Linked DNA regions of Homo sapiens: region 1 is linked to region 2. The links come from fine-mapping of genetic effects on gene expression. Tissue or cell type: whole blood. Region 2 holds a variant in brackets; the other region holds the start of a gene. All regions are shown on one strand. Distances are between the middles of the regions.

The links. PIP is the estimated chance that this variant, and not a neighbour inherited with it, causes the effect. A credible set is the group of variants that fine-mapping cannot tell apart.
Region 1: ZNF613 starts here. The variant in region 2 is the best candidate, but not a certain one, in a credible set for the expression of ZNF613 in whole blood (TOPMed, PIP 0.68).

Annotation. Positions count from the first base shown.
Region 1 is chr19:51,925,302-51,930,531 of GRCh38, reverse strand. ZNF613 (zinc finger protein 613) reads right to left here and starts at 3,060. Exons shown (of 6, transcript NM_001031721.4): 1 at 2,992-3,060; 2 at 636-800. RefSeq lists enhancers at 3,122-3,421, 3,277-4,040.
Region 2 is chr19:51,949,667-51,954,896 of GRCh38, reverse strand. All of the region lies in intron 1 of ZNF350-AS1 (ZNF350 antisense RNA 1), which reads right to left. Among named protein-coding and RNA genes, the nearest start is that of ZNF350-AS1, 3.1 kb to the right of the region's middle. The variant C/T (reference allele first, on the strand shown) is at 2,331.

The DNA.
Region 1 (5,230 bases), 24 kb after region 2:
TCAGCACTTTGGGAGGCTGAGGTGGGCGGATCAGCTGAGGTCAGGAGTTTGAGACCAGCCTGGCCAACGTGGCAAAACCCCGTCTCTACCAAAAATACAAAAATTAGCCATGCATGGTAGCAGGCACCTGTAATCTCAGCTACTTGGGAGGCTGAGGCAGGAGAATCACTTGAACTTGGGAGGTGGTGGTTGCAGTGAGCTGAGATCACGCCACTGCATTCTAGCCTGGGTGACAGAGTAAGACTCTGTCTCAAAAAAAAAAAAATTATGCTATGTGAAAGAAACCAGTCACAAAAGATCACATATTATATTGTAGCGTTTACATGAAATGAAATAAGAGTAAATTAGAAGAAAACAGAAAGGTCAAAATAAGCAAATCTATAGAGACAGAAAGTAGATTAGAGATTACTTAGTGGTAGGGCATAGGGAGTGGTAACAAAAGGGTACAGGGTTTCTTTTTAAGTGATGAAAATGTTCTAAAGTTGACTTTGGTGATGGCCGCACATAGTAAAAGCCACTGAATTATACAGTATGGGACTAATAGACCTGTAATTAGGAAAAGCTGTCAGTAGAACTTAATTATGATAAACCTACTGAAATATTCAGGGGCAAATGTATGAATGTCTGCAACTTACTTTGAAATGCACCAAAAAACAAAGCAATATTTTACAAGATGGATAAATGTGGCTGGGTGAAGTGGCTCACACCTGGAATCCCAGCACTTTAGGAGGCCAAGGAGAGAGGATCACTTGAGGTCAGGAGTTCAAGATCAGCCTGGGCAACATAGTGAGATGCCATCTCTATAAAAAGAAAAAAAGGTGGATTAATGATGAGTAGAAGGATGATATATAGATAGATATGTAATAAAAGAAACACAATAAAATGATGATAAAATCCAGATGGTAGGCAAACAGGTATTCAATTGTAAAGTTCTTTAAATCATGTTATATGTTTGAAAGTTTTTGTAACCTGGAGAACAGGGAAGTTTGTTCAGTAAGGTGACCAAAAACAATGTAAATATTTTCTAAACTAATTGCTCTTCTATGTAAGAGTAAATTAGAAGAGAACAGAAAGGTCAAAATTAAAAACACACCATTTACAATTGCAAAAAAATTAAAAACTAAGGTGCTGATGAGGGTCAGGGAGAAACATGTTTGGGTAAACATAGAATTGTAACCCATTCTTAAAAGTGATAAGTGAACTTTTTAAGTCTTAAAATTCTATCTAAATATATCCATACACTTAGTGATTCAAGTCACAGTGGTGCAGTTTTGCCTCTTGATGGTATACTATTACAGAAATCTTAAAAAAAAATTTTTAAACAAAAACATGGATGATATGTTTACTATAAGAACGTTCATAATGTAAAATTAAATACGGCAAATTATACCAATGTTTCAGCAGCTTATCTGCATTGTGAAAATCAAGCATAGAAAACTGAAATTGAAATATACAAAAATCTTATCAAAAGTCATTACTGGGGAACACATTTTGGGATAAGAGAGATGTTTTACTTGTGTCAGAACCTGAAAGAAAATATTTACGTGTGTGTATACACACATTCACACAGTAAACCTGAGGAAGAAGAACGAAAATCTTTAATAGAAACCTTATCATTTTCTTCGTTTTGTTTTTTCCTTTTTCTTTTCTCCTTTTCTTTTCTTTTTTTTTTTTTTTTGAGGCAGGGTCTCACTCTGTTGCCCAGGCTGGAGTGCAGTGCTCAATCATAGTTCACTGCAGCCTAGAACTCCCGGGGTCACGTGATCGTCCCACCTCAGCCTCCCGAGTAGCTGAGACTACAGGCGTGTGTTACCACACCCAGTTAATATTTGTATTTTTTGGAGAGACAGGCTATGTTGTTCAGGCTGATCTCCAACTTCTAGGCTCGAGCAATTCGCCCACTTTGGCCTCCCAAATGCTGGGAATATAGGCGTGAGCCACCGCGCCAGGCCACCTTACCATTTTAGATTTGATTAATCTTTGATCTTCCCCAAAGCTTTCCTATTTACCAGGATGAGAGAAAGGAGAGATGTGAGAAGTCAAATGAGATTTGTAAACCAGTCCTTGCAGAGAAACTTAAAAGGGACTGAGAGGGAATGTACCGTTGGACCTGAACACACACACCAATCAGGATGCCCTGGCTGCCAAGGCTTCAGCCTTCACAAGCTTCTCCACGACTGTCACATCTAGACCTCCCTAACATGGTCACACCCCCTTAGATTAATCCAAAAACCTGGACCACACACCTAGGTTCACATGAACCCGGGCTCCTCCTCACTGAGTCGCATATTAAATCCTGATTACAGCCTGGAGCGAAGGCTCACGCCCGTAATCCCAGCACTTTGGGAGGCCAAGGTGAGAGGATCGTTTGAGGCCAGGAGTTGGAGACCAGCCTGGGCAACATAGTGAGACCCCCGTCTCTGCAATAAACAGATAGATTAGATAGATAAATTAGATAGATAGATAGATAGATAGATAGATTAGATTAGACAGATTAGATAGATAGATAGATAGATAGATAGCGTGGTGGCGCTCACCTGTAGTCCCAGCTACTCGGGAAAGCTGAGGTGGGAAAATCACCTGAGCCCCGGGAGATGGAGGCTGCAGTGAGCCACGATTGCGCCACTGCACTCAAGCCTGTGTGACAGAGCGAGACCCTGTCTCAAAAATAAAAAATAAAACCCCGAATCCGAAGCAGACACAGTTTTCCTTGACAAAAACCACTCCTCACTCCAGTCCTCAATCACCGAGCCCTACAGAGTGACCCGCAAAGGCACCAAACCCTGATCACGGACTTCCAAGTGTTGCTCTGGACAGACTCTGACCACCGACCACTGGGATCCCTCAGGGCTGACTCCGGAGACGCCCCAACCCCAATACCCCGACTCCCACTTGCTCCCGCTTCCCCCACAAACTCCACGGCTCCGCACTAAACGGACGCCCACAGACACCCTCCTCCCCTCATCCTGACAGACAGACCCACACACAGACCTGATTTTGCGGGGAACCCACCGAGACTTCCCAGAACCTGCACTTTCCTGAATTATTCCACTTCTGGGCCCTCCCCCAGCCTCCAAGCCGGCCTACGGCGGCCGAGGAAGGTCTGAAGTTGCAGGTGTACGGAGCACGGACGACTGGGAGGTAGTAAGTTCGCGTCCTCTCGTCACGGATACTGGAGGCAGCCATCTTTGAATCCTGCACGTACGGAAGGTAAAGTGGACCTTTTCTGCCCAAGTATTCAGGGATAGCGCGGGACGGTGAAGAACTCCATATTTTGGCACCTAAATCCTGCGCCCAAGTTTCATTTATTTTCAGAGGGTCGAGCTTAGCCAAGACAAACATGGTATGGCTACGTGCACCTTAGCGGGCTGGGGAGAAAAGTCATCCGCTTTGCACAAAGAATGACGGGAATGACACAATGGGCGCGGCCATCTTAACACTTAGGTGTCCGTACAAGTGAAAACGCTTTCTCCACAGAGGAAAAAGAGCAATCGCACCCTGAGTCATATACCGCGAAAACGCATCTAGCTACATGTGGAGGACAAGAGGAAGATTTTTGAGGACCAAAAGGGTGTGGAGAGGCAATCGAGGTACGAGGATATTGTTCACCCCGTCAACGGAAAGTGAAAAAACAGCGACCCCTGGAACCTCATTTACATTTGAGGGACACGGTCACCGCCCAGTGCAGGTAAAGAGAGCAGCCACCAGCCAACCGGAAAAGGAATCCAATGCGGGAGGCGGGAATTTTCCTTAAGAGAGAAGAAGGGCCTTCCCTCTGCTGTAGGTGGAGTCAATCTTAACGTCGGGGCTTTCGGAGAACCAAGTGCCTAAAATTCTGGAAGGAATAAATAAGGCGACTCTGGGAGAATGAAAAGTTGTGCAAGCCCGGGCGCGATGGCGCACACGTGTAGTCCCAGCTACTGGGGAGACCAAGGCAGGAAGATCGCTTGAGCCCAGGAGTTCCAGGCTGCAGTGAGCTATGATCGCACCTATCAATAGCCACTGCACTACACAGCCTTGGCAACCCCTTCATGAGGAAAAAAAGAAAAAAGAAAAAAAAAAGTTGTGCAAGAAAAGTAATCATAGGATACTACCTGACTGACCTATAAATATTATTTACATAGTCATCATAACGTAAATTCTAATTCTGATCCAACCTAAATTAAGACAATTCCATTGGAAGAATGAGAAGGAAATTCCTGCATGCAGTGGAGTGTTTATATTTATAACAGAGTTTTCACGTGTCCTTCATGATACATCTATAGAAAATGCCCCAAAATGCAAACTCCATTTCAGAAACATACCGTGTTACTTAAAATATCAAATCTGTGAAGAGTGAAAAGCTTTACAGAACTATATGACTCCTTAGGAGAATTGCAAAATAAAAGCAAGAATCTTATGACTCAGGAATTCCACTCCTAGATACTTATACAACAGTAATGAAATGATATGTCCTCACAAAGACTCACAAGAATGTTCTTAGCACCTTTATGCATAATACCCTGAACAGGAAACAGTCCAAGTGTCCATCAGTACATGAATGTATAAGCAAATTGCAGTGTAATCATACCCTGGAATACTACTGAACAATAATAAAAAACAAATCATAGATGCATGCACCAACATAGATAAATCTCAACAACCTTATGAAGGGGGCCAGCCTCTCCACACCTGTGGGTATTTCTCATCTGGTGGGATGAGAGACTGAGAAAAGAAATAAGACACACTGACAAAGTATAGAGAAAGAACAGTGGGCCCAGGGGACCAGCACTCAGCATACGAAGGACTCCTGCCAGCACTGGTCTCTGAGTTTCCTCAGTATTCATTGATCACTATCTCTACCATCTCGGTGAGGGGGATGTGGCAGGACTATAGGGTAATGGTGGGGAGAGGGTCAGCAGGAAAATATGTGAACAAAGTTCTCTGTGTCATAAATAAGGAAAGGTGCTGTGCCTTGATGTGCACGTAGGCCAGATTTATGTTTGACTTTACACAAGCATCTCAGTGTAGTATAGAGCAGTATTGCTGCCAGCATGTCTCACCTCCAGCCATAAGGCAGTTTTCTCCTATCTCAGTAAATAGAATGTACAATTGGGTTTTAAACTGAGACATTCCATTCCCAGGGATGAGCAGGAGACAGATGCCCTCTTCTTATCTTAACTGCAAAGAGGCCTTCCTCTTTTACTAATCTTCCTAGGCACAGACTCTTTATGGGTGTTGTGTTGGGGGA
Region 2 (5,230 bases):
AATAACAGGTAGATGCATGAAACTATCCCCAGGAAAGTATAAATCCATAATGCTAAAAGAAGACATATTAAATTTTTCTGACATCTTTATAAAACAACTACCTAAAAATCATAATTTGAAAAAAGACTCTTTTTATAGTGAACTCCCAGGAAACAAAGAACTTAAAACCCATGAACTTCAGCCAGGAGATTTTTTTCTACTGGAAATGATATCTAAAATGATATTTGGTTAAAGGACTCCCTTTAACCAAACTGGAAAGCGCTCTATTAGTTACTTTTTACTAATCCTTGCACTAAAATGTAGAAGGCATAGACGTGTGGATTCACATGTCTTATGTAAAGAAAGTTGAGCCTAAAAGAAAATAGTCTGTATATTGGGGGCGTCTAAAAGTTATTAGGACTTGAGGAAAGTTGACTTTGGAGACTGAGTCATAGAGCTTGACCTCTTAATTACTAACACTTTATTACAGATTAATTTCCTTCCATGTTTCCTAGATCCCAGGCCAGATGTCCCCGATATATAAGACCCTTTCACTGAAATAAAATATTCATTGACTGAGATAAAAGACTTTTTGACTATTATATACATAATGTAAAATGTTAAATATATCTTTCAAAAAAAAAGTCTCTTGACTCAAGCAAAATACTTAGGAGCAAACCTTAATTCCTCACTTTCTTCGTCCCCTTGTTTTGAACTCATCGGTGAGCCTTGTCTTCCTCCATTATATATCCTCCTTTCTAAGAAATATGTAAAGGTGGCATGAGTCTTGGTTTAAAAGGAATAAGGTGGTCCCTTAGGCCCCTTTTGTGATGCCAACCAAGACATAATTGTAGAATTATAGAAGATGCTATTAGTTACATGACAAGGGATCAGTGTATTAGGGACAATGAAATGGGAAAAATTCAGATCTGACATCTGTGTAGGTACTACATGCCAAATGTGACTGAAGGTGACAGACAACACATGTGGGCACCAGCAGTAGCACCCATTCAGTAACACATCTTATCCTATTCAGAAGCACATCTGCTTCTGGAGAGGTCTACATGGTTCATTGGCCTGTTGCAAACTTTCCAAATGATCATTGTTTCTCATCTTTCCCTCTTTCTTTAGAAGCACAGGAGAATGTGCCCACAGTGAGGCTAAAGGTTGGACACTGAGAATAAGTTTCTCTCTAAATGTGAGATTGGTGCTTTGGGAAAATTAGTTTGATGATACAGAATGAAGAAAAGGGATGCATTTTATTTTTATTTTTATTTTTTTTTATTGTTCATTCTTGGGTGTTTCTCGCAGAGGGGGATTTGGCAGGGTCATAGGACAATAGTGGAGGGAAGGTCAGCAGATAAACAAGTGAACAAAGGTCTCTGGTTTTCCTAGGCAGAGGACCCTGCGGCCTTCTGCAGTGTTTGTGTCCCTGGGTACTTGAGATTAGGGAGTGGTGATGACTCTTAACGAGCATGCTGCCTTCAAGCATCTGTTCAACAAAGCACATCTTGCACCGCCCTTAATCCATTTAACCCTGAGTGGACACAGCACATGTTTCAGAGAGCACAGGGTTGGGGGTAAGGTCACAGATCAACAGGATAAGAATTTTTCTTAGTACAGAGCAAAATGAAAAGTCTCCCATGTCTACCTCTTTCTACACAGACACCGCAACCATCCGATTTCTCAATCTTTTCCCCACCTTTCCCCCCTTTCTATTCCACAAAACCGCCATTGTCATCATGGCCCGTTCTCAATGAGCTGTTAGGTACACCTCCCAGACGGGGTGGTGGCCGGGCAGAGGGGCTCCTCACTTCCCAGTAGGGGCGGCCAGGCAGAGGCGCCCCTCACCTCCCGGACGGGGCGGCTGGCCGGGCGGGGGGCTGACCCCCCCACCTCCCTCCCGGACGGGGCGGCTGGCCGGGCGGGGGGCTGACCCCCCCACCTCCCTCCCGGATGGGGCGGCTGGCCGGGCAGAGGGGCTCCTCACTTCCCAGTAGGGGCGGCTGGGCAGAGGCGCCCCTCATCTCCCGGACGGGGCGGCTGGCCGGGCGGGGGGCTGACCCCCCCACCTCCCTAAGGGATGCATTTTAAAAACAGGATGACCATCTAAGAGTGTCACAGATACGTTGAAGTCGAAATCTGACATTCTGACTTGCCTCTCCCAAGATATTTGTTTAAAACAAGTGTGTCTGCTTATTTCCCTGATTGGATATAGGCAGTGTGTGTTTTCTCTCATAATTTGCAGCTACCTCATTTTTTAGTTTCCTTGTGTTTTTATTTTGTTTTCCCCAGCCAGAATGTAAGGTGGTGGTTCACGCCTGTAATCCCAGCACTTTAGGAGGCTGAGG[C/T]GGGTGGATCACCTGAGGTCTGGAGTTCGAGACCAACCTGGCCAACATGGTGAAGCCCCATCTCTACTAAAAATACAAAAAATTAGCTGGGCATGGTGGTGGGCGCCTGTAATCCCAGCTACTAGGGAGGCTGGGGTGGGAGAATTGCTTGAACCCAGGAGGTGGAGGTTGCAGTGAGCTGAGATCACACCATTGCACTCTAGCCTGGGTGAAAGAGCAAGATTCCATCTCAAAAGATATATATATATAATTTATATATTTATTTATATATGAAACTCTGGCTGTTCCTTATTATTGCATCATTGCTGTCACTGGGTGAAAGATAAGACTACCCATAGGCTAGAAAAATACAAAAGAAACCTACCCTCTACCATGCTACCTCAATTACTAACACAAAATCCACTCGGCCTGGCAATAAAAGTTAATGTTGCTATGATTACCCCACTTATCCACATTTCTATTCTACTACTTCCCCTACAGACACCTTCTAACATTGGCTTTCATATGGTTGGCTTCGGACCAAATCTTTTGGCATTCTCCCTCATGGCCTGACAAATTTTCCATTTAATCCCTTCATTCTCTGCCCTTCATTATGTTTATTCAAAATTTAGACATGCCTTTTACATATCATGCCATCATTCCCTATGCTCTATATATCACTTTAACCTCTATTTCCTTTACATTTCTACCATATTCCCTATCTTTGCTGATCATTTTTTAAACTGGCTGGATTTCCCCACAGAAATGATGTTAACAGTCTTTTTGAATAAATATAGAAATTGACTCTCCTAGTCTTAAAGCTTGAAACTTATATTCATTTTATCTGAGTTCGTTTCTCATGAAACCATTCAGGCCTCCCAGATAGTTCAAGGAACTGAAACTTACCAGATCACTGCATCTAGACAATGCGATGGTGGACCCCTCATCCATCATGATTGCCTAACCGACCACCTGATTCCTGTTGGCCAACTCCTCTTCCTTACCCTTCCCTAATTCCTGTTTTATATTCCTTGCCTGTTATATAAGCCACCAATTTTAGTCGGTTGTGGGGAGACAGATTTGATATTTATTTTCCTCTCCCACCTGATGTTACCCAAAAAAGCCTTTCTTCTCTCGCAATACTCATTGTCTCAGTGATTGTCTTTCTGTGTGGCAAGCAACGGGACCTAGACTGAACCCTTGGCATTTCAGTAACATCTTGACATGTAACTTCACACAACCTAGAATTCTAACAATACCTTGTGTTTAAATCCTGTATTACATACAGATATTTCATATATTTGTTACAAAAAATCATCACTACTAGAAGATATTTTCTTGTTTCTCACAAAATTCCATCCATTTTAGCATATATTAGGGCTGTGAGTTACCAAGTATGTCACAACAGCATTCCATAGAGAATTTTATCAACACTCTGCAGGGATTGTACTCCAAATCTATCAACCCAGACTCTCAGAGGGATAGGCCTTCATACATGCATTAGGTACGCATACTCCAGCAAATATTTGGATTTAAGAAACGCTTGGCTAGGAGCAGTCGCTCACGCCTGTAATCCTAGCACTTTGGAGTCCGAGGCAGGTAATGCATCAGGTGGATCACTTGGGCTCAGGAGTTCAAGACCAGCCTGGGCAACATGGTGAAACCTCATTTCTACAAAAAATACAAAAATTAGCTGGGCATGGTGGCGAGTGCCTGTAGTCCCAGCTACTGAAGTGGGAGAATCCCTTGAGTCTGGGAGGCGGAGGTTGCAGTGAGCCAAGATCATACTACTGCACTCTAGCCTGGGCAACGGTGTGAGACTCTGTCTCAATTTTTAAAAAATGACTTCCTCTTCTAGAGGAATTATCAAAAAAAACAGTATAAGCCACTTAAGAATAAATGTAACCATAAGATCTAGGACATAAAAAAGTGAATCACAAATCTTGGGGTGGGAACAGAAGAACTTGAGTAATTGGAGTATCAGAATGTTATATATAGATAGAAAATATAGAAATAGAATTGAATATTTTATACATGTCAATTCCATCCTAATTAAGGCAAACATTTAATGTGACTCCATTTACTAAGCCACTGGTACAACCTTCTGATGTGATACTGCCATTGAAAAATTTTATATGTAGTCCAGCTACTTGGGAGGCTGAGGCAGGAGGATCCCTTAAACCCAGGAGTTCAAGGTTAGAGTGAGCTGATGGCACCATTGTACTCCAGCCTGGGAGACAGGGCAAGACTGACTCTCTCTGTATAGAAAGATAGATAGATAGATAGATAGATAGATAGATAGATAGATAGATAGATAGATACATACATACATACATAGACAGATGTATATAGAGACAGAAATATAGATATATATACTATATATACATACATGTATGTATGTTTGTGATGAGAATTTAAGTGATGAAATCAAATATTTACCCAAAGTATTGCAATTGTGAAAACTGTGAGGATGAAACGAAAAAAAAAATGCTCCTAAATAAAAATCAGAAGTGTGGGTAACAGAGATTATTTTCTTGTGTTGGAATAAATCTGAAAGAAAATATTTATGAAAACGACATGGTAAAGTTGGGAACTAGAGAGGAAAAAAGCTCGACTTTAGTAGCAAACTCGTAATTTCCTCGTCCAGAAATTTGTAGACAATGATATGAATATAGGAAGGGAAATGTTTTTCATTGTTATTTTTAAGACGGACTTGGACTTGAAGAACTGAACTGCATGTAGATCCACTAGGTAAATGTAGTTTAATCACAACTGTAACCAGCAGTCAATTATTAAGCCTCAACCCATCCACTCTCCAGGGCCCTTGGGCCTCCAAAGCTCCAGCCTCTTCAGGCCCCTAAACCACAGACATGTACAGGCCTCCTCAAACATTGACTCCAAATTAAATCTGAAACCGCAAA